Linked DNA regions of Homo sapiens. The protein of the gene in region 2 purifies or fractionates together with the protein of the main gene of each other region. This does not show direct contact. Each region holds a gene or a part of one and is shown on either strand. Other genes may lie near its edges.

Region 1 (7,046 bases), on a different chromosome or scaffold from region 2:
TCTACATCTCCTAGTCTCTCTGAACAAGCATCACATCCCTACTGAAACCCTGAAGATCTTGATGCTCCTTTGTGCTCTCTTCGAAACTCGTCTCCCTGGCTCCACTCCTTGGATCATCTCAACCTCAATCTGACTAGCAACCTGGAATCCCTTGACCCCCTTGATTTTCCAATACTGAATAAACCCAACCCCTCTTAAGTCGATGGACAATGGTTGCAGAAGCACTGGGAGATAAAAACCAAGATACGCACATTTATAGTAACAATAACAAACATCCGAAATATCTACCCATAGGGAAACAGCTAAATAAACTAAAATATATCCACTTTATTACATGCCATGTGACAGCAAAAAAACTGTGTATATCTACAAATACTGACATGGAAAGATTCTGCAAAGTATTGTTAAGTAAAAAAAAAAATAGAATGATACGTAAAGCATGACACCATTAAATTAAAAAAACATACACAGAGTACTATGAGTTTTCTACATATATATATTCACTCACGTATACACACATACACATATATGAAAATGCCTAACAAAGGAATCTGGGACGACACACACCAACTAATATCAGTGGTTATCTCTGGGGAAAAAATAGCAATTTAGAGTATGGTCAAATGGGAATGTATTATCTACGAGATTTGTTTTATAAGAACTAATTTAAGTTTTTTTTAAAAGAACAAGAAAAACTGAAAATAAACTTAATGCCTAGGAATAAGGAGATTAGTTAAATAAATGATGATATATACATGGAATAGATTATGAAGTTATTAAAACCATGTTCCAGAATATTTAATACTCATGGTATATAAGTAAAAAATGCAAATTATAAGACAGTACGAAGCAATGTAATCCCAATTTAATTTTTTAAACTCCAAGTATAGAAAACTAGACTAAAATACAAAATACATGAATGATAATTGTATCTTAGAATTTTATAATGGGTGAGCGCCAGCTTTCTAGTTCATAGACAGCATCTTCTCACTGTATCTTCACATGGTGGAAGGGGTGAATAAGCGCCCTTGAGCCTCTTTTATAAGGGCACCTCCTAATACCATCACACTAGGCATTAGGATTTTACATATGAATCTCATGGGGACACAAACATTGAGAACACAGCAGTGCCCTTATAAGCACAAATATGAGAGTTTTTTGTTCTCTCTCTGCTCTCCGTCATGTAGATACAAAGACAGCTATCTATAAACAAGAGGGCCCTCACCAGACACAGGATCTGCTGGCACTTTGACTGTGGACTTCCAGCTTCCAGAACTGTGAGAAATAAATGTGTGCTTGTATAACCCAGTCTATGGTAACAGGTAATACAGCAGCCAAAGCTAAGATACCAACCACCTTTAAGCATTTCTTCATCAGGGCTGTTGCAGTAACTTAAATAAGATAGTTTTCTCACACTCACTAGTGTGAAAACCCTTATTTGTCCAGATTCTCATAGTTTTTCACTAGAGTTTACATGCCTCAAGGGCAGAAAACCTACCTACCTCATTCCCTTATCCTGAGTGCTTAACACAGTACATAACTTTTATTTGATGTCCAAAACCTGCTTTCTGAATAAATTGCCTCTTTATTCTTTATTCTCCGGAGCACTCGGCATAGCAGCCTGCCCTGATACATGAAACAGCTTGCAGAATAACAGAATGAATACACATGGGAACCTGGGAATACTTTACCTTATGGATTTGGTAAATGACATCAGGCTGAGTTATACTTAAAATGTCATTGTTGCCTTTCAGCGGCCTGGCATGATCTTTAAATTCCTGACCTCGGAAGTGTTCTTCGTTTAGCTTCTCCCGCTGGATCATGGTCCCCATCCCTCCATCCAGCACCATAATCCTCTTCTGCAGAATGGCATTGATCTCATCCCGCAGGGTTTTCTTCAGACCTTCTTTAAAGAAAGTGAAAGTTTGACTTCAAAGAATGAAAGGTGAAAAAGATGTGTGAGGGAGGAGCTTTAGAGAAATTTATAATAATCTCCAATAAGGAGTAAATGGAGTTTATAAAAGATGCACTCATAACTCTATATAGGAAAACGCTGCCCAAAAAGGTCATTAAGTCGTGACAATGCCTAATACAAGATTGCACACAGCACAAAATTCCTGGTGAAGCACGAAACCAAGGTGAAGGTAGGCTACACTACTCCTGTTTTACAGATGAGGAAAACAGGCAATAATGGGCCAGTGATACAAGACTTTGCTCTCTTTCCTTGTTAATTCTGTGCAGATACTCCCTAAATAAAATGATTTAGCAGAGATAATTGAAAACCATCAATAATTCCAAACTATTCTTTAAAATATTAGCTTTGACCTTCTCCCTCACCTATTGCCAGAACTAATAATGGCCTGCAAACAGAGTTTTACTCACCTCTGCCCAACTATGAAATAATAACTGGCTAACACCCTTGAACTTCTCAACTCTCCCCATGCTCCTTGACTTCTAATTCCCAGTCCAGAAAAGGGCCCAATGCTTACTCCTTCTAATCCTGCTTTCTGGTTTCTACGACCTACTGGAAAGCCACAAAACTATGCTGACTGGAGTCACTGAAAACTTGCAACGTTCAGCCTCCTTTGGTTCACCTTTTCTTGACCTCCCTCAATACTTCCAACATCTACTGTCCCAATTTCTACTTTTTTTTTTAGCACCAAATCCTTTTCCTCCTCACTCCACAAGTGATTTCACCTAATCCCGTACAAAGAAGTTTTCTGTTGGAGGCTCCTCAAACTCACACCCTCTCCACCTCAAAATCCTCTTGCAGTCTGGCTCACTCTATTTCCCTTCTTTCTGTACCTAAGGAAAAGCGCATGATGACCAACACCTCCCACTGCTCCCTCATCTAGCCCTTCCCACTCCCACAGTTCCACCTCAGCAACCACCGATTTCTTATCCTTCTGACATGGCTTCCTCCTCCACCACTCTCCTGAAATTACTTTCTAAAGTCACCAATGACCTTCTAAATATCAAAAACACCTGGCCCCAATCTTAGACCCAGCTTTTAAACTGTCCACTGGATATGGCTACCTCAACTACCCACCTGCCCCTCAATCTAATATTCAAAACCAAACTTGCATATATTCTCTGTCTCATCTCCTGATTTCTGTAAATGGCAACACCCTTCCCAGAAGACTAACCATAAAATCTCAGTATTATCTGACTCCTTATTCTCCCTGATAACCAACATCTACTTAGATCCCAAGCCTTATAGATTTGGCCTCTAAAATGCCATGCACAATGGTCCCACCTTCCTCGCCCTGTGACAACCCCTTTCTTCAACCCCTTACTACACAGGCCAGCTATCACCAATCCTCTCTGAGCTCTAGTTTGCATCCATGCAAATGAGATCATACATCTATGGAAGTGCCTTGTAAACTATCAAGTGTCCTACAAAGGTAAGAGATCACCACCATACCCAGTCGCCCTGTGTTCTAATCCATCCTGTGCACCACTACCAGATTTATCTTCCTATACAACAATTTTAAACCAGTTGCTTCCCCTGCTCAAACACCTTCAACAACTCCCTATAGCATATCAGACTGAATACATGTTACTCAAAACAAACCATAATGACGCCAACCCATTCCTTCTGTGCTAAGAGGCGAGAAAAGCTCAAGTCAAATGGGGCTGGTTCTAAGCTATCTGAGCTCCTTGGAACTCATGCCTAGCAACACTAAGGTCAGTACTTGGCAAATATTTCTTTAATTGAAATGACAAAAAAGTGAGGGAAGATGAGAAAGAAGAGGCAAAGATAATTTAAAACCCAAACCAGTAATGTAAGAATATTTGTAAGCTGGTATTGGGTGCAAACTTACAACCCTGCCTCGTCTTACTGTCCAGAGTCTCAAGTATACAATATGAGAACTGGGGCTAAATGGTGGTCACAGAACTATTTTGAGTGACTTTCTCCAAGTGGGCTTCAGGAAGGTGGCTCTAGTAACCTAAAAGAAAAATTTGCAATATCCAATATCTAGTTTCTGGGCACTATGTTTCTTTCAGGGTGTACTATTCCTTTCCAAAGCCACCTCACTTGCTAATTGTGTTTACTGAACTTGCAGGTGAGATAAAACACTTCCTGATAAAGGAACGAAGTTAAGCTCCAATGATCTGTACAAAAGTACTTCAAGAACCAAAGAAAATCACTTCTTGGGAAATGTGGAGAAAAGGTAGGGCTTAATGAAGCATGTATAATAGAAAGACTGGTAGGCATCAGGCAGTGGGCGCCATTTCAAGCTATAGTCGACACGGTAAATTCACATGTAGTGTTAATTTAGGCACTCCATGATGTGACTATCCTATCAGCCAATAAGCACTCAGAATTTGATAGGCTTAAGCTAATAGTAGCAGGGTGTGAAAACCCAAGAAATCTGGGTTTTAGCCCCAGCTCCCCTTAGTAGCTATGGGATTTTAGACAAGTCCTCTCCATGCTTCAGCAAGATGAGGAAACATCAGCCCTGCCTTCATCATCAGAACTGTGATACTAAAATGAGACCATGTGTTAAGAACTGGACCTCTTAAGTCACACAAGTCATGAAATGAGACATTGGTGTTTGATGTATAGTAAACATCTGATAAATATTAGCTACTCTTATTATGTTGGTATTATAGCACAGCAAGGACTGAAGCTCTAAAGATTGTGTTCTATATATTACAAAGCTCAGTGGGCTGTGAAAAATCATGTAAAGCCTGAAGCTCTCAGTTGGTCATGTTGGGGCAGGAATGGCATATTTGCAGGTTGGGAAATGTCTTCTAACAGTCGAGTGAAAGAAGAAAATACTCAGTGAAAGCTGTTAAATGTAGATAATTTCACAGGAGGAATGAGAAGACTAAGAACTAAAGACTCTAACCTACATGCCCAGCTGAATCGCTTTCTTCTCAAAAGGATGTAGCTGCAATTCTCCCTGAAATGACATCACGTGAACTTAAGTGGGTGACTGAATCATAAGCCTAGTGTGAGCATGAGGTGTGGCAGTGGGGAAATAGGTCATGCACATGAAATTTCATATTTAAAAGGTATTCAAACTTCCTAGGGAGAAAAAGGCAATCTTTTCCACAGACAGTGAAGTATGTCCTTTGGCATCGGCAAAATGATTAATCAATATCAATCAATATCCTATTATTTACATGTCCTTCTTCCTATCTCCTCCACTGAGCGAGTGCACACAAGTTGAGCAAATCTAACCACTCAGAGTGCCTCCACCCCTCATTTTCATAAAAAGTCTTAGTACTTTTCCATGGGGCCCTTACTGTATTCCCTTTTCAATCCAGAAATAATAAGCTTTGTTTTTGGACTTTAAGACAGTTCACTATTTACCACAAAACAACCCAGCCCCACACATGCAAATTCTGGCATCTTGTTTGTTGAGCCACCGTATAGGCAAGAGATCAAAAGCTGTTTAAAAACATCTGCTTTGGTTTTTCAGAAACCTGACAAACTTATTGTATAATTTATTGGGAAGAACTTTATGACTTCGAATGAAAAGGAACTTCTTAAGACTCAAAAAGACCAACCTCTTAATTTAAAAAAAAAAAACACAATGAATTTGATTACATAAAAACCAAGGATTTCTGTTAAACGAAAGTCACCATAGACAAAAATAATAGACGATGGGTTGGGGGAGATTCTTCAATGTCTAAAGCTAATTTGTTTTCTTATTGATTTGTGTTAGTTCCTTGTACATTCCAGAATGTAATATACAATGTGAATTAAAAATACCTATAGACTAGAGTTTACAACAAAATGTATAAATATATGGATATATGTGAAAAAGGCGGTCTATGGAAACAAGAGAATTGTGAATAGAAAATACAGATAAAAAGGAATATATAATAAAACACAGGAATTTTGCAGCCTGAATAAAAAACTCCTATGCAACTGAGGCCCTTAAAAATCCATTACTTGGGCTGGGTGTGGTGGTTCACACTTGTAATCCCAACACTTTGGGAGACCAAAGTAGGTGGATCACTGAGTCCACGAGTTCGAAAACAGCCTGGGCAACACAGTGGCCTCATCTCTACAAAAAAAAAAAACAAAAATTAGCCAAGCCTGGTAGTATGCACCTGTAGTCCCAGCTACTAGTAAGGCTGAGGCAAGAAAACTGCTTGAGCCTGGGAAGTCGAGGCTGCAGTGAACCGTGATCACGCCACTGCCCTCAGCTTGGGCAACAGAGTGAGACTGTCTCAAGAAAAAGGGGGAAAAAAAAAAACATAGTTTCCTCAACTACTTGCTTATTTTTCCTTTAGAGGATAATGTAAGATTTCCCATTTAGAGAAACTAAGAAGTCTTCCTTCAGAAAATCTGTTGGTATTAAGTGTTCACTATTTTTAGCCTTCTGTATTCCTCCAGTTTTTCCAGTAGGAGGTCATTTTTCACTGGGCTTTAATTACCATTCTAATTCACCAGTTTCCAATTACTATCAGAACTTGCTCAAAAGAATAAGTCACCTTGACAATTCCTTCCCCTGGCAGAGTGGGGATCTACTGAAATGTCACTCTTCCATGAAGAACAACAAAATTGTATTTATCTGTATTCAGTTCATTAGGTCTAGAACATTCTGTATACTTAACTACTGACTAGTCAAGTTCTAAATAAAGCAGATTCTTTCTGATTATCTTTCACAGTAAATATAAGAATATAGTTTTGCAGTTCCTTTACTTAGCTGACTAGTTATAACACTATTTCAGAAATATTTTTATGTTTAATGTATATATGTAAATAACCGCAGTGCAGAGGAGAGTCCCAAGGAACATCCTTGGCTAGTGAGCCTAAGAGATCACACAGTATTTTCTCCAGTTTTGAGTGGATTTAGCCAATATATTTTGTGGGGTTTTTTTCCGTGCCCTTAACATCTTATTTTCTAGCTAACAATATTCTGATTCACAGCAAGTGTTCCAAAGAATAAACATAGGTATAAGTGGTTAAAGCCCTAGTCAGATTTGGAGGGGGGTAGACCAGCTAGTACCACCTTTAAGAACTAGCCTAAAGAATGACAAGATGAAGGCCTAAACAAATAAATTCCTAATATGTGCATGTAAGT
Region 2 (7,000 bases):
TGATGGGCAGGCACACCCAGCAGGGTTACAACAAGCCATTTATCCCCTGGTGCGCAGGTCCTGCCCCAGTTCCTCATAGGCTGAGTACTATGGGGGTTACAGTCTTCCCAGACTTCGCCTATTGGTTGTTGGGTAGGGGCTGTAGGGCACAGGTTCCTCCCCCAGATCCTCATAGGCTGAGTACTATGGGGGTCACAGTCTTCCTGGACTTCGCCTATTGGTTGTTGGGTAGGGGCTGTAGGGCACAGGTTCCTCCCCCAGATCCTCAGAGGCTGAGTACTATGGGGGGGGGTCACAGTCTTCCTGGATGTCGTCTATTGGTTGTTGGGTAGGGGCTGTAGGGCGCAGGTCCCTCCCCCAGATCCTCATAGGCTGAGTACTATGGGGGGGGTCACAGTCTTCCTGGATGTCGTCTATTGGTTGTTGGGTAGGGGCTGTACGGTGCAGGTTCCTCCCCTGGTTCCTCATAGGCAGAGTACTATAGGGTCGCAGTCTTCCTGGACGTTCCCTATTGGTTGTTGGGCAGGGGCTGTAGGTATTTTCTTTAGGGTTGTCCTGCTTTATTTTGTCGTGGCCCACAATGCATTGCAATCCCAGTCAGCTCAGGGGCTCTTCAAGTATTTGATTTATGACCTAAGTAGCTGGGCAGGCTGATAAGAACGGACAAAACGAGCTATTTTGCGGGCTAGTAAACTTTCATCTTAGACTAATCTTCTTTGGTTTGGGTGAGGGCAACTAAGGGGTGGGGAATGGCCAACAAGCAGGCATCGGCTATCCAAGTAGGGGCCTAGTACATCCTGTTTTTCTGTAGTTTGCTGACCTAAGCCAATTCAAGGCACTTTGTCTTGGAAATGGACCACTGTATATATTATTTCCTTCAACCATAACCAGCTCCAAGTCACAGGTGGTGCCTGCATTTCCAGAGGTGCTGGGGAGGAAGAAGAGTGTTATCTTTCTGAGATTCCTTTTACTGGCATTGAGAACGACATGGTTTCAAAGCTGAGCACTGGAATCAGCTTGCCCTGGGGGGGGAAGAACAGGACCAAGAAGTGTAAAACCACTCCTGCAGAGGCCCGAGAAAGGCAGCACGTGGAGGCATGCACATGCCTGTATGTGGGGGGTGCACACCCATATACGTGGGGGCACACACTGTGACCTGTGATTGCCAGGATGCTTTCTGGAGACCGAGCCAGCTGCCAGCAAGCAGTGACTCGGGCAATTTCCTAACAGAGATAAGATAGTGTTTCCAGTGCCTTTCTGAAGAGTGTGATTTTTCCAGTCAGTGTTTCTCCAGTTGGAATCTGTCAGTGATTTGGATCAGGGACACGGTGTTGAGGGCGGAATGGGGAGGCATGTGGTGCTCTGTGCAATGTGCAGTGTGTGTTTCATAGAGAAGGCAACGTAATCACAACAGCCAATCCACGCACTGTTCTTTAGTGCTTGCCCACATTGCCCCGTCTCACAGATGAGGACACTGGAGCACAGAGAGGTTCAGGAACTTGCTCAAGGTCACACAGCCAATAGATTTTGAAACCTAGATGTGGATCCAGGCAGTCTGGCTTTGAGATCATTGTTCCGAACATCTGTTTCTACTCCCTCAGGAAATACAGATATGGATATAAATACATATAATAATGTGAGTATAAACAACTAGCAGCATTAATGACAGTATTGTAAAAATTAGCTATGATCCTTCCACACTGTGACTGTAAAATTGTGTGAATGTTATATGCATTTTACACAGCTAAAATCAGCGTGTATACGTTCATCTTCCACCTTCCCTTATTTGTCACGACTTTACAACGCCACCGAGTTGATGTGTCAATCTGCTTCTGAAATGCTGCTCGCTGAGGCTTTGTTTGCTGCTGATCGTAGAGAACACCACGGCAGACATCTCTGTCCCTGTCTTTTAGTTTCATTTTAATGATTGAGTTGGGCTGAGTCCCCCAGACCAGACATGGCTCTGGCTATTTGCTCAGTAAGCAGGCGATTTCGGGGGCTGCCGAGGGCCAGGTGCTGCGGCAGGCACTGGAGAAACGGCCGAGACACTGAGTGTGGGGCCCCGGAATTCAGACCATGTCAAAGGCTTTGGGATAGAAACAGTGGTGTGCTGGGTCAGCAGCAGAGTGCCGGCTCTTCAGGAAGTCAGTTCCGGCTCCAAAGGCCGCCGGAAGGAGTCCTGGTTCTTTTCTTTCTGATTCTTTTGTCTACTGTTTACATCTTTTAAGGGTAAGAGATTGGGTTTTTGTTTTTTAACTTAGTATATACGGTTCTGGTTGTTAGTAGTTCTTTTGGAAATAGATTTTGGATATATCATGTTTTACAAATTAGTTGGTTAACAAAACATTCTCTGATTCTCTTTTCCATGGAAGCAATTGCATCTGCAAAGGAATGCCCTGTGTGTGATTCCTCAAGATTTCTTTCAGTTGCTTCCGAACCTGACTTGGCTGGACCTCCGGTACAATAGAATTAAAGCGCTTCCTTCTGGGATTGGAGCTCACCAGTAAGTTGTTTATGTTTCCAGATTTTAAAAATCATCTTTTCAGTGCACGAGTGCCTGTTCTTTCGCTCCTTGTCCTTTACTCTTGATTAAATTTTTACCTCGGAATAGAAACATTTAATAGTATTTTTAAAGCCAGCTAAGAGGTTGCGACGGCTGAATGTACCCAACACAGAACTATAACTTGGGATATTTGGTGCCACAGAGAATGCTGTAGCCACAGTGTCTTTTTGCTGGGCAGCCAGTGTGATTTTTGTCACAGCCGATTCCAGCTCTGACTCTCCTTGTGTGAAGCTGTCTGAAAATCAGAAATACCTCTGATGAGTTAAACCAGCAACTTTGGCCAGGCGCGGTGGCTCACGCGTGTAATCCCAGAACTTTGGGAGGCCGAGGTGGGCAGATCACCTGAGGTCAGGAGTTTGAGACCAGCCTGGCCAACATGGCAAAACCCTATCTCTAATAAAAATACAAAAATTTGCCAGGCGTGGTGGTGGGTGCCTGTAATCCCAGCTCCTCAGGAGGTTGAGGCAGGAGAATTGCTTGACCCCAGGAGGCAGAGGTTGCAGTGAGCTGAGATCACACCACTGCACTCCAGTCTGGGTGACAGAGTAAGAGTCCGTCTCAAAAAAAATAAATAAAAAATAAACCAGCTCCTTTGCTCCTGAGGGCTCCTGGGTAACCCACATTGGTTCTTGGCAAATAGTGAGAAATTCTTCTCACTTTGGAAAACTGGGAGCACCCAACCAAGCTCCAGGTGTCCTGTCCATTTCCACCACTTCCCTTCCAGGAGTTTCCTTGCATTCCCACTTGTGGGGTGTAATCCTGCCCATGGTGGAAACGTCACACCTCCTTTCCCCTCCTCAGCCTGGCCCTTCCCCAGCAGCCAGGACTCTACTCTCACTATGGAGACGTCCTCCTTTCCTGAGCTCTCTGCTTCTGTGCCCACATCCCCGGCGCCATGGCTTTTTCACCTTCTGAAGCCATGATTGCCCTTAACTCTTTTTCTTTTCTTTCTTTCTTTTTTTTTTTTTTTTTGAGACGGAATCTTGCTCTGTCTCCCAGGCTGGAGTGCAGTGGCGTGATCTCGGCTCACTGCAACCTCTACCTCCTGGTTTCAAGCGATCCTCTTGCCTCAGCCTCCCAAGGAACTGGAATTACAGGTGCCCGCCACCATGCCCGGCTAATTTTTGCATTTTTAGTAGAAACGGGGTTTTGCCATGTTGGACAGGCTGGTCTCAAAGTCCTGACCTCAAGTGATCTGCCTGCCTTGGCCTCCCAAAGTGCTGGGATGACAGGCATGAGCCCCCGCGCCCGGCTACCTGAACCTCTTTTGACAAGTGCTGATATGAAGGCCCCATATCAGCTGGGGCCACGGCAGCAGCCCATGCAGGAGGGGCAGCCTGGGCGTGGCTGGCCACGGCAGGGCCTGGGTGGGACTTCAGAGCTGGTGGGATGCGGGTGGGTGTGGGGCCACAAGAAGAAGAGGGGTATCCAGGGTGCCCCCAGTTCCTACGTGAGGAATGGTGTCTCCCAAGAGCCATGGTGGCCTCCGTGGGACAGTAGAATAGAGGCTTGTAGGAGGCCCTTCACTTGCCTTGAACTCACTGGTTTTAAAAATGTTTTATAAGAAGTCAGTGTATTTTGCCACAGGTAATGGGAGGGAACCATGCATCACTCACCCTTCAGGCTCTGCGAGGAAGCTGCTTATCTAATGATAGGTGGTGTCCGGAGCAGGTGGAAACACACCCGGTGCATCTCCATGGGGCTCCTAGGGACTCTGGGGTCTGCAGGGCGGACCACAGACGGACCTGGAGGAGAAGAGTGTTCCGGGGCTCAGCTGGTACATCTGCCGAGCCCGGCCAGCCGCTTGTGTTTTGGGAGCTGCATGGGAGCCAGGTGCTCTCTGGGCAGTTGTCCACCCTGTCCTCACGGCCTCGGGAGGCTTCCAAGCCTGAGGCTGAGAGTGCTTTGGGAAGGATTTCTTCTTCACACGATCATCATCTTCTGGGTTTAGAATCACTGGGTGCTCTTTTGTCCACAAATTGTTTTAGCCTTACACAGTTCTGGAGAGTAAGTGCTACTCAGAGGATGTAAATGAACTAAGACCTGTTCCCATAACTACTCGTGTTTTCCCTAAAATAAGTGTACAGTCCTCAAAATTTGAAATTCTTTGATTTTGCTAGTCAAAGCTGGCTGCCTATGTTTTTGGAGGTATACTTTTATTTGTGATTTGTAACCCATGATAACATTCAAATTAGATCAACTACAGAGCTGAGACATATTACTCGGAAATACAAAGTGATTGTGGGCTTATTAAAGCCTTAAACCTCTCAAAACATAATTAAAACAGTGACGGTGTTAGCATGCCACCTTCTCAGTGTCCTGGATGTGTCAGCTTGCTGGCAGAGAGAAGATGTAGGAAGCATGGATCCGTTCATTTACCTCCTTAGGCCAACAAGTCCAACTCAACGTTTACGTTTATATATTCATTTTAAAATCAATGAAACGAATCAACGGGTAAGCTTTGAATTATTGATAGTATTTAAGGAATTAACATTTATCAATTTATCGTTTAAAGTGTGCTCAGAATATTTTAATAATATTATTATATAAGGTAGAAAAACCCGTGCTGTACTTTCAGGTTAATAGTCAGTAAACATGCACCCCCCGCAATCCCTCTCAGGCAAAACCGAACCCAGCCCCACCCAGCAGCACGTGAGTGGGCCAGAACCTTTCTGCCTTGACAAAGCCCTAGCATTGGAGAAGCCGAGAGCGTGGTGCTGCTCTTGCTGCCCTCCTCAGCATCTGGAGGCCTCTGTTCACCTTATAGAGAGCAGATGCTGTTCTTGTTGGCTGGTTTTATACTAGCAAAATTCAGAGGGAGTAAACCAAAAACAGTGAACTGAACGAACCACATTGAAATAATCCACTTTTGTGCAGTTCAAGAAAAGTTTGCTTCATAAAGTTTATTCCTTAAAAACTTCAAATAATGGCCAGGCACGGTGGCTCACGCCTATAGTCCCAGCACTTTGAATGGCCGAGGTGGGCGGATCACAAGGTCAGGAGTTCGAGACCAGCCTGGCCAACATGGTGAAACTCCGTCTCTACTAAAAAAAAAAAGTACAAAAAAATTAGCCAAGATCACACCACTGCACTCCAGCCTGAGCCACAGAGTGAGACTCCATCTCAAAAAAAAAAAAAAAAAATTCAAATAACAAGGAAAATCCAAGAAAGTAAGTAGAAAGAAAATTGTCTAAACCTTAAGTAATCTGATTTTCCTGTGGGGTTACCAATAAAAAAATTAAAGGTAATTTAAATGAGGGCTGGGCATGGTGGCTTATGCTTATAATCCCAGCACTTTGAGAGGCTGAGGCGGGAGGATCACTTGAGCCCAGGAGTTCAAAACTGGCTTCAGCAACATGGGAATACCCTGTGTCTACAAAAAATACCAACATTAGCCAGGCATGGTGGCACACACCATTAGTCTCAGCTCAGCCAGGCGTGGTGGCACACACCATTAGTCTCAGCTTAGCCAGGCATGGTGGTACACACCGTTAGTCTCAGCTACCTGCGGGGACTGAGGCGGGAGGATTGCTTGAGCCCAGGAGGCGGAGGTTGCAGTGAGCAGAGGTTGCAGTGAGCTGAGATTGTGTCACTGCACTCCAGCCTGGGCAACAGAGTGGAGACCTTGTCTCAAAAAATAATCATCATAATTAAATGTGAAAACCAAGAAGCATAGTACAATAAAAGTTACAAAATAGAGTTTAATAGAATATATAGATTTTTCCATCATTCAACTAGTAAATTTTTACATTCTTTCCTGTCCGTCTGTCTAGGCATCCATGATATATTTTGGGCTGCATTTTATAAGGATGTTACTAGGTGTTAAATGAAAGTAGATGCCTTCCCGAAATGCTGCCTTAGCTGAGTTTCTTACGTAGAGGCTTCTCAGAGTCCCCAGTGTATGAATCATTCATCTCCAAGCAGGGCAGGTTATACTGTGCGGTGGAAGTCTCTCAAACATTTTTGGCCGTAGAAAACTTTTTTCACAGAGCATGATAAAACACTGGGATTCCTCACTGCACATCTTAGGAAAGACTGGTTTACAGTGAGGTTATAACTGGAAGGTGTGAAAGCCTAAAATAGAGGTTCTTAACGGGGAGATTTTACCCCCAGGAGACTGTTGGCAATGTCTGGAGACATCTGTGGTTGTCACGCCTGGGGGTGGGTGGTACCCCTGGCATCTGTTGGAGAAAGGCTGGAGGTGTACAATACCCCGCAAAGCAGGGGACACCACCACCCCTATGGACTGCCTGGTCCCATGTGTCAGCGGTGCAGGGCTTAGACCTGTGTTTGCATATGACAGCAGACCATTTGTGTGTACATGTTGTAAATTTAAGTGTATCTGTATTGAAGTTGCCCCTGAAAGAGAAGAAAAATGAAGAAACTTGATGGTATATTTTGGAGATAGTCAATTAAATCTTGCTTTTTAAATTTTTT
Region 3 (3,872 bases), on a different chromosome or scaffold from region 2:
TGGAGAGAAAGAGAATATATATACACTCCATAGAGTATATATACACTATATATATATACTGTACTCTCTAGAGTATATAGACTATATATAGTGTATATATAGAGTATATATACTCTATACATATCTGTATAGTATATATATACACTCTATAGTGTATATATATACTGTAGAGTATATAGTATATATAATATATAGTATATATAATATATATACTTTATAGAGTGTATACTCTAGAGTGTGTATACTCTAGTGTATATATATATACACACTAGTATATATACTGTATATGGAGTGTATATATATACTCTATATAGTGTGTGTGTGTGTGTATATATATACACATATATACTCTCTCTATATATATGACATGTTGAAATTACTATACATTTCTAGAAGCAAAGACTAAGAGTCTGTAGTCCCAAGGAATTATTCAGTGACTTTGCAAGTCTATGTACTAAGAATAATTCTGATTTAAATGTCAGAATCTGGCTCAGTTTTTGTTTTAACCTTTTTTTTAAAATTTTTAATCAGTGTTATGTATACACATGGTAAGTAACTCCATGGTATAGAAAAACTGATGATGGAATTCAATAGGTGCACTCTGCCTTTCCATTCCCAAGCCCACGCTCTAGAGCAAGCCTGGTATAGCTTTTGTTTTCAGTTCTTCTGAGGGTTAAATAAAACGAGTAGGTAGTTTTGTGAATTAATATTGCCTTATAATTTTAAGTATAGTACATGACCCAGGTGGAGTGCTTTAGATACAGATGTATGAGTGATTAGTTGCAGGAAACACAAACTACTGTAGCTAGCCACATTTAAAAGGACTGTAAAACAGGGAACTGGATGCTTGCAATATTGTCACAAGGGCTAGGAGTGGGTTCCATACTGGGTCTCCAGAATTAACTCCCAGAAAAACACTGCAGGTCTGTCTGGCTTGCCAGAGGCGCTGCTACCCCACAATAATGAGAAAGGTGAAGAATCAGGGTTGCATCCACCACGCCACTTGCCTCAACAACTGACTGCAAGAATTCTGCTGCAGGGAAATTAAATGTCTCCTCAACCACACATGCCACCAGAACACAAGCAAGAGGAAGATGGCTCTCTCCTCAGTTCTGCATTCCAAATCTCACACATGGGTGTCTGATCAGTGGAACCCAATTCACATCTGGAAATCTACCTGCAAAGGGAGTCTGGGAAATGTGGTTATTTTCTCACCTTCCAGCCCCTGCATTATAGGAAGGCACACTAGGAGAGCAGAATGGACACTGAATACCAAATCACCGTATCATTGTATCTACATTTATCCACCTCTTTGGCTAGTCAATATCCATACCATTGTTTATGAATTCAATGCATTCATAAACAATATATGAATATTGTTTAATATTCTTCTGTATAACAACAGCAACTATAACATGCTAATGTAAGTACGATATTTCCCTTCTTTATCAAAGGAGAGCTATAAAGATCCATCAATCACAGGGTGGTGTTTATTCCTCTTCTCGTTCAGTTATACCCTCACCTTGATATCTCTATCCTAAAAATGAAATGATCAAGTTGATTACCACCAATACAATTTACTTAACACAATATTGGAAAAGAGAGGAGGCTGGGCATGGTGGCTCACACCTGTAGTCTCAGCTACTCAGGAAGCCCTGGAGTTTGAGACCAGCTTGGGCAACAAAGGAAGACCTCATCTCTACTAAAAATCAAAATTAGCTGGGCATGGTGTTGCATTCCTGTAGTTCCAGCTACTCAGGAGGCTGAGGTAGGAGGATTGCTTGAGCCCAGGAGATCACGGCTTGATCATGTCACTGCACTCCAGCCTGGGCGACAGAACAAGACCCCCATCTCTTAAAATTTCATCTCGCAGCCAGGTGTAGTGGTGCATGCCTGTAGTCTCAGCTATTCAGGAGGCTGAGGTGGGAGGACTGCTTGAGCTGAGTAGTTCAAGTCCATACTGGACAACATGGCAAGACCACCATCTCTTGAAAAAGAAACTTTTGGCTGGGCACAATGGCTCACGCCTGTAATCCCGGCACTTTTTGGGAGACCGAGGCAGGCAATCACCTGAGTTCGGGAGTTAAAAACCAGCCTCACCAACATGGAGAAACCCCGTCTCTACTAAAAATACAAAATTAGCCATGGTGGCACATGCCTATAATCCCAGCTACTTGGGAGGCTGAGGCAGGAGAAACGCTTGAACCCAGGAGGCGGAGGTTGCGGTGAACCAAGATCGCGCCACTGTACTCCAGCCTGAGCAAAAAGAGCAAAACTCTGTCTCAAAAAAAAAAAAAAAAGAAAAAAGAAAAAAAAAGAAACTTTCATGATGTAATGTTTTCTTGCTTTGCATGTTTCTGTTCTGACATTTGTACTTAGGATTTGTTTTAATCAGCAATGGTGACACAGAAACAATTGCCTATGGAAGATTACTTTCATCTCCCAAGAGGGCGTGCCATGCCACACCAGGCCACATGAGGAAACACCAAAGTCAGTCAGGCAGTAAAGAAGCAAGTGAAAAGCCTAGGCCAGAGCTTTGTTGCTACAGTGGTTGAAAGGTGTGGGGACACCCACTATTGGGCAGGAAGTGAAATACTATATGTTGGGGTTTGTGGTTGGAGGGACTGTAATGTGATGTTTGCACACCCATAAAAGCTGGATTGTAAGGGAAAGCTAAACAACTTTTGTTGTTAGTTTGGCCCTGTGATTAATGGATGCTAAATACATAATCTAAGGAAACATGGAACTTCTTCTTCTGAAAATGTAGGTTTATGTCTTTTTAAAAATAAATTTATATAATAGCCTTAACCTTTGAGACTTATTTTCCTCTTTGAACAATAAATTAGTATATTTTCTCTTCTGTCTACCACTTTATTTTGGTTGATATTATTTATGTGTTGACTTTTGTGAAATGTTTTAAATTCTATTAATAGATTTTTTTTCAGCTTTAAATATCTCTTATTTAGTTTGGAGAAAGAGTCTCACTCTGTTGCCCAGGCTGGAGTGCAGTGGTACGATCTTGGCTCACTGCAACCTCTGCCTCCCGGGTTCAAGTGATTCTCCTGCCTCAGCCTCCTTAGTGGCTGGGACTACAGGCACACACCACCATGCCTGAGTTATTTGCTTTAAATATCTTTTAACTCCTAGCTTTTAAAGACTTCACTATATTTATACTACTATCTACTTTCTCCATTTTTTTTTTTTTTCTTTAAGAGACAAGGTCTTGCTCTCTTGCCCAGGCTGGAGTGCAGTGGTATAATCATAGCTCACTGTAACCTCAAACTCTCGGGCTCAAGTGATTTCCTACTTCAGCCTCCACAGTAGGTAGGACAATAGGCATGCACCACCGTGCCCAGCTAATCTATTTTTTGTAGAGATAGGGTCTCAATGTGTTGCATAGGCTGGTCTCAAAACTGGCTTCAAGTGATCCTCCTGCCTCGAACTCCCAAAGCTCTGGGATTATAGATGTGAGCCACTGCACCTGGCCCCTTTTGATTCCTGATTTTTCCTTCCTCACTTAAAAATTTACATTGTGGTCTATGGCAATAGTCTCCACATCTTAGTTCTGGTCCTATAGTTAAACATCTGATATACACTGCCAGTTCTTTTTATTTACATTTTCCATTCATCTTCGTTTGCGGGAAGCCGTATTTTAGTAGATTCTCCAACAATGGTTCACATTTCCTGAGTTCTTGTATGTTACAAAGTGTTTGTTGGATTTATACATGATTGATAGTTTGGCTGGCAACCCTGTAACATTTGAATCCTCTCACAACATATGAGAAATTCTGGTCTTATTGATCCCACCACCTGAAAGTAGAACCAGGAAAACTCCCTAGCAGCCTATGAAAGGGGCATATAACATACCCTTT
Region 4 (7,761 bases), on a different chromosome or scaffold from region 2:
CCGCCCTCCTCCGCCTCCCAAAGTGCTCGGATTACAGGCGTGAGCCACCGCACCCGGCCGACCCTTTTGAGGTCTGCTGTAATTGGGAAGGAGAGAACTGGAGTGGGAAGTAGGGTCAACAGAGTATTTTAAAGGCAAGATTGGAAGCACATTTCTATACTAGTAGGAAAAAAATCTTGTAGCAAGGAAAATAGAAAATATGTAAGACAGGAGAATTACCAGTGATGTCCTTAATTGCTTCAGAAGGAATGGGGTTTAGGACTCAAGTGGAGGACTTGGATTTTGCTAGGAATACGGAAAGCTTATTCATTATAATAGGAAAGAAGGCTAGGTATATGCCACAGATATGGGTCAGTGAGACATAATGGTGGTAGCTGATCGAAGTTTTCTAATGCTTCTACATTTTTCAGCAAATAATAGAAATTTGTCAGCTGAGAGTGAGGGTGGGACAGAAGGATGTTACAGGAGAAGGTGGAAAACAATCATCTGGAAGACTCAGAGTAAAGAGACCAGGGGCCTGGCGCAGTGTAATCCCAGCACTTTGGGAGGCCAGGGTGGGCGGATCACCTGAGGTCAGGAGTTGAAGACCAGCCTGGCCAACATGGTGAAACCTTGTCTCTACTGAAAATACAAAAAGTAGAACAGGTGTGGTGGCTCACACCTATAATCCCAGCACTTTGGGAGGCCGAGGTGGGAGGATCACTGGAGGTCAGGGGTTCGAGATCAGCCTGCCCAACATGGCGAAACCCCATCTCTACTAAAAATACAAAAAATTAGCCGGGCGTGGTGGCGGGAGCCTGTAATCCCAGCTACTCGGGAGGCTGAGGCAGGAGAACCGCTTGAACTCGGGAGGCAGAGGTTGCAGTGAGCCAAGATTGCACCATTGCACTCCAGCCTGGGCAATGAGAAACTCCATCTCAAAAAACAAAACAAACAACAACAAAAAAAACAGGGAAATACGGTTGACTGTCAGGAAACATTAAGGTGCCACTGAAGTTACTGATGATCCAAAGTCCACAATTCCAAAGCCATTGCCATGAGATGAAAGCAACTGGCATCTTGGCCTGAAGCCTTTACAAATCTGGTTCACATAACTAATTTCTCTCATGCTGATTTCATGCTTACCACATACATTTCTGACTATGATCAGGTTTTCCACTTAAGTCTTTTTTTTTTTTTTGAGACAGAGTCTCGCTCCTGTTGCCCAGGCTAGAGTGCAATGGTGTGATCTCGGCTCACCACAACCTCTGCCTCTCATGTTCAAGCGATTCTTCCGCCTCAGCCTCCTGAGTAGCTGGGATTACAGGCATGCGCCACCACGCCCGACTAATTTTGTATTTTTAGTAGAGACAGGGTTTCTCCATGTTGGTCAGGCTGGTCTCAAATTCTCGACTTCAGATTATCCACCTGCCTTGGCCTCCCAAAATGCTGGGATTACAGGCGTGAGCCACCACACCTGGCTAGTCTTCTTTTAAAAAGAGAAGGACCGAGCCTGCTGGCTTATGCCTGTAATCCCAGCACTTTGGAAGGCCAAGGTGGGTGGATCACTTGAGGTCAGGAGTTCGAGAGCAGTCTGGCCTACATGGTGAAACCCCTTCTCTACTAAAAGTACAAAAAAAAATTAGTCGGGCCTGGTGGCGGGCGCCTGTAATCCCAGCTACTTGGGAGGCTGAGGCAGGAGAATCGCTTGAACCTGGGAGGCGGAGGCTGAAGTGAGCCGAGATTGCACCACTGCACTCCAGCCTGGGTGATAAAACAAGACTGTCAAAAAAAAAAAAAAAAAAAAAGAGAGAGAGAGAAGGCACTGGGCATGAAGACTTGAAGTATTCTGGTTTCTGAAAGGAATTTCTCACCATAAATTAACGTTTCGTTATCTTTTTGTATATAAGAAGTTCAAAGTGTTGAGTGGTTAAGGCAGGTGCACATTCATACCGATTCTAGAACTTCCACATCTCCCAGGCTTTGCTTCAAATGACTCCTTACACTGCTCTACAGCTTGACCAACACGATGGACCCGTATGATGCAGCACGGGACTCCAAGGCAGGACACCTGGCTTCACAGACAGCTCAGGCAATTAGCTTTCCTTGTCTGTTTCTCCATCTGTAAAGCTCCCTAAAGCTCCTTCCACAGCTCAAATTCAATTTTAGGAACCTACCTCAAGGGATTCATATTTGCACAGACCACCAACAGCTATGATAAAATAACTGATGGATCAGCAGAGGTTTAAGGTGTAGGCTGGAAAGGGAGGAGCCAAGAATAAAAAGCTACATTTCAAAACCCCCACATCTGTTGCTTTGTTACCGGGGCTTCAACAATTTCCAAACTCAGGTGCCACCAGTGCCTAGTCTCTATCTAGCACATCCCAATTCCGCCTTTCGGGAACTTCGAGTTGGTTTAAAATCGTGCTGCATATTCCTATTTTTGATTTGGCATCCAAGCGGTACCCGGTGGGCATTTCAAAGTCCCCACATCCTAAATCTCAAAACTCAAGTTTGATTCTTCATCTCACAGCCACCGAGAACTCTGCTCCAGGGGAAGTGGAAATTGGAAGCGCTCCACTTTCGGTTCTAGGCGCCGAGGAACTCGGGCGAGAGCGTGGAGCACGGCTGCAGGGCGGGAGGGGTGCGGGACTCACATTTCTCAATTAGAGCCTCCTCGCAGTCTAGGCCGAAGATCTGCAGCTCCTCCGCCAGCTGCTGGGCGGATGCGGACATGGTCGCCCAAGCCAGGGGCCGGGGAGCCGGCCCACCCAGCTCCGACCTGCGCCCAAGAAGCCCACGGGGGTGGCGAGCGATGAGCTCCTCGCCCTCTTATCCTTCCCCCCTCCGCGGACCGTGACAGGAGGTGACTGGCCCAAGCAAGACCTCAGACCGTCAGAAGGCCCCGGCCGTCGGTCACAGAGAAATACTTTTTTTAAAAAATGAAGGGGTGGCTCCCAAACGCCCTGAATGGAGGGAGCAGAAATCTCGAGAGGACGCTCTCCTGGTGAGAACGTCCTGCTTCCCAAAAGCTACCGCTGAGCTTCTCAGTGACGGTGGCAGAACTGAGTGGCCGGAAAAACCCGCCAAATGGTTTGTGCAGTGCACGCATGCGCGAAACCGGGAGCCAACCCCAAACCTTCCCCTTGCTTTCCCCGGCTCATTCCGGAACCCCACGCGCGCACGCGCGGCCCAGGGCGCGTGCGCATCAGCGGGCGTGTGGGCGTCTCTACGCACGCGCCTGGCGGCCCGCCAGTCAGCAGCTGCGCAGTTCTCTCTCACGGCGCGAGAATGCCGGTTGTGACTCGCAACGCCCGGGAGTTGCCTACAAGGAAACTGAGTCTGTGTGCGGATGCCTGTTTTCTGGGCATCGGCTGCTCGATAAAACTCAGTGGCGCATGTTTGTCACCCTTTTGCCCTGTTCCGTGGTGCGCAGGCGTTGTCGTGCGCGTGCCTTCGACTATCTAAAACTTACTGTACCCCCTTCTCCATTCCCCTTGTCATCTCTGCCTGTTGTGCCCTTGGTTCATCCTAAAAGAATGGCTTCAGTAGGGAATCTGGTTGCCATGGTTATTATCGTGCTTATCACCGTGGTGCCAGCCACAGTGATGGGTATGTTTTCTGAATCTGGGGCATTTGGGGGGATATGAGGTGGGAAGGTGACGGATAATTTAGTTTTGGACACGTTAAGTTTGAGTGCCTCTGGGATTTCCAGGTAGAGATTCCCAGTGGGTGACTGGAGGCTTGGGAGTGAAGGTAGGTCACTCAAGGATAGAGTTTAGGGGTAAGATGAGAAGAGGGTTCTCCCCTTGAAATACACCGTAATTCTTTGAGCCAAAAATCTCAACCGTAGGCGTCATACAATGCTGGTGGGATGGTATAGAGCGTTTCGAGAAAACAATTTAGCAATATGTATCAGGAACCTTTAAAATGTCCATCCCAGGCCAGGTGCGGTCACTCACGCCTGTAATCCCAGCATTTGGGAGGCCGAGGCAGGCGGATCACTTTGTAGCAGGACGAGCCACAGACAAAACTCCTCAGACACCCGAGTTAAAGAAGGAAGGGGTTTATTCGGCTGGGGTCATCGGCAAGACTCCTGTCTCACCAGCCGAGCTCCCCGAATGAGCAATTCCTGTCCCTTTTAAGGGCTCACAACTCTAAGGGGGTGCGCCTGAGAGGGTCGTGATCAATTGAACAAGCAGGGGGTACGTGACTGGGGGCTGCATGCACCAGTAATTAGATCAGAACAAAACAGGATAGGGATTTTCACAGTGCTTTTCTATACAGTGTCTGTAATCTATAGATAACATAACTGATTAGGTCAGGGGTCCATCTTTACCAAGCCTAGGGTGTGAGGCCGGGCTGTCTGCTTGTGGATTTCATTTCTGCCTTTTAGTTTTACTTTTTCTTTCTTTGGAGGCAGAAATTGGGCGTAAGACAATATGAGGGGTGGTCTCCTCCCTTAACTTGAGCCCAGGAGTTCAAGATCGGCCTGGGCAACGTGGCGAAACCCCTTCTCTACAAAAAATTAGCGGGCGGTGGTGGCGGGTTCTTGTGATCTCAGCCACTCTGGGGGCTGAGGCTGGAGGAGCGCTTGAGTTCGGGAGGTCGAGGCTGAAGTGAGTCATGATCGCCTCACTGCACTCCAGCCTGGGCGACAGAGCAAGATCGTGTCTCAAAAAGCAAACAAAGGCCGGGTGCGGTGGCTCACGCCTGTAATCCCAGCACTTTGGGAGGTCGAGGCGGGAGGATCACGAGGTCAGGAGATCGAGACCATCCTGGCTAACACGGTGAAACCCCGTCTCTACTAAAAAAAAAAAAAAGAAAAAAAAAAGAAAGCCTAGCGTGGTGGCGAGCACCTGTAGTCCCAGCTACTTGGGAGGCTGAGGCAGGAGAACGGCGTGAACCCGGGAGGCGGAGCTTGCAGTAAGTCGAGATTGTGCCACTGCACTACAGTCTGGGCAACAGAGCGAGACTCCGCCTAAAAAAAAAAAAAAGCAAACAAAAACCGAAGTATGTGTGACCTCTAGTCAGCCAATGGCTGCTTGGCTGTATTTTGAATTTAGGCCTAGTTAGCCACTCCGGATCCATCATGAACCTCTTTTGGGGTTCACACCCTTAAGCCTCAAATATTTACTCTCTGGCTCTTTACGGAAAATGTTTGCAGTTTCCCACCATCAGCAATAACCAATGGATATCAAATGTGTTACATACATATTTTTCCCAACCTGTCTTTTAACTTTGTGGGTTTTTTTTTCTACCACACAACACTGTGCAATTCTTTTCCTGTATGGGTTTTAGGTTTCCTGCTTTGTTTAATAAGGTCTCCTCGACCTAAGCTTATGCAAATATTCTTCCAATTTTTGTTTTATTAATTTTACTTACGTTTTGCCTTTAGTTCGCTAATCCACCTAGAATTAATCTTATTTGTGATGTGAGGAAGGATTTAGCTTTGTTTTATTCCTGACAAACAGCCAGCATGTCAGCAGTTATACTTAGTAAATAAAACATTCTTCAACTGACTTGAATTGTGATCTTTCATGTATCAAGTCCCCATAAACACTTGAATCTGTTTCTGGATTTTCTGTTTTATTCCACTGATTTATTTGTTGTCTTTTCTGTGTCAATATATTTTGATTGCAGGAGTAAATCAAGTGGGTTTTAGATCTGTGACATAGCCAAGTCCTAAAACAATAGTAGCTGAGACAAAATAGAAGTTTATTTCTCTCGTCAGATAAAATAATTTCAGAGATAGGTAGCCCAGGGCTAAAATGGTGGCTTCACGTTCATCAGGCCTCCATCGTTCCACTCCACTGTCCTCGAATTAATCTCCATCCTTACAGTCACCTCATTGTCCAAGATGGCTTCTGGAATTCCAGCCATCAGATTCACATTCCATTCCAGGTAGCAGAAAGTAGGAAGAAGAAAGGGCAAATAAAATTTTAAAAACATAAAGCAAGAAAAGAGAGTGAAAAGAGAAATGAAATGAAAAGGGAAAAAAGAAACAAAAAAATGACTTTTGCAAACCGTTGTCTATACATTTTTGAAGAGGAGTCTTTCTAGAAGTCCTTCCCAACCACTTTTGCTTATACTTTAGCCACATAGCCATACCTTTAAAGGAGGCTGGGAAAGCCTCCTTATAGGTTTAAAAGTTATATTGTAATATTATTGAGGAAACACATTGCTACCCCATCAATATACAAATTTTGTTACTAAGAAAGGAGTTAATACTAGGTAAGCACTTAGTAGTGTTTGCCCCAGGTAGCTTTACAGTAACTTCCCAAAACTGTTGAAGCATTTTACTATTTTTTTTGGGGGGGGACAGGATCTTACTTTGTTGCCCAGGCTGGAATGCAGTGGTGTGATCAAGCTCCCTGCAGCCTCAATCTCCTGGGTTCAAGCCATCCCCCCACCTCAGTCTCCTAAGTAGCGGGGACTACAGGCACGCACCACCACACCTGGCTGTTTTTTTGTTTTTGTTTTTGTTTTTGTTTTTGTTTTTGAGACAGTGTCTCATTCTGTTGCCCAGGCTGGAGTGCAGTGGAGCGATCTCGGCTCACTGCAACCTCCGCCTCCCAGATTGAAGCGATTCTCATGCCTCAGCCTCCCGAGTAGCTGGGAATGCAAGCGCCCATCACCACACCCAGCTAGTTTTGTATTTTTAGTAGGGATGGGGTTTCACCATGTTGGCCAGGCTGGTCTCAAGCTCCTGACCTCAGGTGATCCACCAGTCTCGGCCTCCCAGAGTGCTGGGATTACACCACCACGCACACCTGGCTAATATTTTTGTTTTTTAATAGAGACAAGGTCTTGCTGTGTTGCCCAGGCTTGTCTGGAACTCCTGGGCTCAAGCAATCCTCTTGCCTTGGCCTCCCAAAGTGCTGGGATTACAGGTGTGAGTCACTGTGCCTGGCCTAGTTTTTAGGAAACCATTTTAAACTTTTAAAGTCATTTTATACAGTATATCCTATCCCCCTCCATTCTGATAGGAAGGACTTAAATATTTTTATATATTTAGGAGAAATGAATACTTTAAGCATTCCAAACAGGATCCTGGTATATCTCTTCATTTTTTTAGGCTTTTTGTCTTTGTCTATCAATCCAATTTTATAGTTTTTCCCATATAGACCCTGTTTTTGTTCAATTTATTGACACAATATCTTCTGTTGCTTTTATGAATGTAATGTTTCTCCCGTATTGTTTTTTGTTTTGTCATTGCCAGTTAAAGGAAAGTTACTGGCTTTTGGATTGTAAATTTTTTTTTTTTTTTTAGACAAGATCTCACTCTGTTGACCAGGCTGGAGTGCAGTGGTGTGATTACAGTCACTCAAGCCTTCCACCTCAGCCTCCCAGGTAGCTGGAACTATAGGTGTACGCCACTATGCCCGGCTAACTTTTGAATTTTCTGTAGATTCAGGGTTTCACCATGTTGCCCAGATGGATCTGGAACTGCTAGCCGCAAACAATCCACTCGCCTCAGCCTCCCAAAGTGCTGGGATTACAGGTGTGAGCCACAACTCCCAGCCTTGGACATATTTCTTGCAACCAGTCACTTTGACCAAATTCTCTTAATAATATTAATGTTTTAGGAGAGTCTCAGATTTCCTAGATTATAATAACATTTTCTAATAAAAAATATTTTTCCCTTCTTCTCAAATATTGATACTAATCATTTTATTTTCCTGTCTTGGTGCATTGAACCAAACCTTGGAATCATTGTTGAATCACAGTAGGCATCCTTGCCTTCTTCCTGTTGCTGATGGCACTGGCTTCAGCATGGCC

The links.
Region 1: the proteins of LRRC27 (region 2) and MTR purify together in Homo sapiens (co-immunoprecipitation; 2 studies listed by BioGRID and IntAct, with this or other methods). This does not show direct contact.
Region 3: the proteins of LRRC27 (region 2) and MCM8 purify together in Homo sapiens (affinity purification with mass spectrometry; 2 studies listed by BioGRID and IntAct, with this or other methods). This does not show direct contact.
Region 4: the proteins of LRRC27 (region 2) and POLA2 purify together in Homo sapiens (affinity purification with mass spectrometry; 2 studies listed by BioGRID and IntAct, with this or other methods). This does not show direct contact.

The regions. Positions count from the first base shown.
Region 1 is NC_000001.11:236,798,288-236,805,333, reverse strand, and holds part of MTR (methionine synthase), read right to left. Parts: intron 1,907-7,046; coding exon 1,692-1,906; intron 1-1,691. UniProt on the Homo sapiens protein: Catalyzes the transfer of a methyl group from methylcob(III)alamin (MeCbl) to homocysteine, yielding enzyme-bound cob(I)alamin and methionine in the cytosol. MeCbl is an active form of cobalamin (vitamin B12) used as a cofactor for methionine biosynthesis.
Region 2 is NC_000010.11:132,335,193-132,342,192, forward strand, and holds part of LRRC27 (leucine-rich repeat-containing protein 27), read left to right. Parts: intron 1-2,147; exon of another isoform or gene 2,148-2,229; intron 2,230-2,372; coding exon 2,373-2,503; intron 2,504-7,000.
Region 3 is NC_000020.11:5,995,614-5,999,485, reverse strand, and holds the end of MCM8 (DNA helicase MCM8), read right to left. Parts: 3' UTR 509-3,872; downstream 1-508. UniProt on the Homo sapiens protein: Component of the MCM8-MCM9 complex, a complex involved in the repair of double-stranded DNA breaks (DBSs) and DNA interstrand cross-links (ICLs) by homologous recombination (HR).
Region 4 is NC_000011.10:65,257,247-65,265,007, reverse strand, and holds the start of POLA2 (DNA polymerase alpha subunit B), read right to left. Parts: upstream 3,047-7,761; 5' UTR 2,716-3,046; coding exon 2,637-2,715; intron 1-2,636. UniProt on the Homo sapiens protein: Accessory subunit of the DNA polymerase alpha complex (also known as the alpha DNA polymerase-primase complex) which plays an essential role in the initiation of DNA synthesis.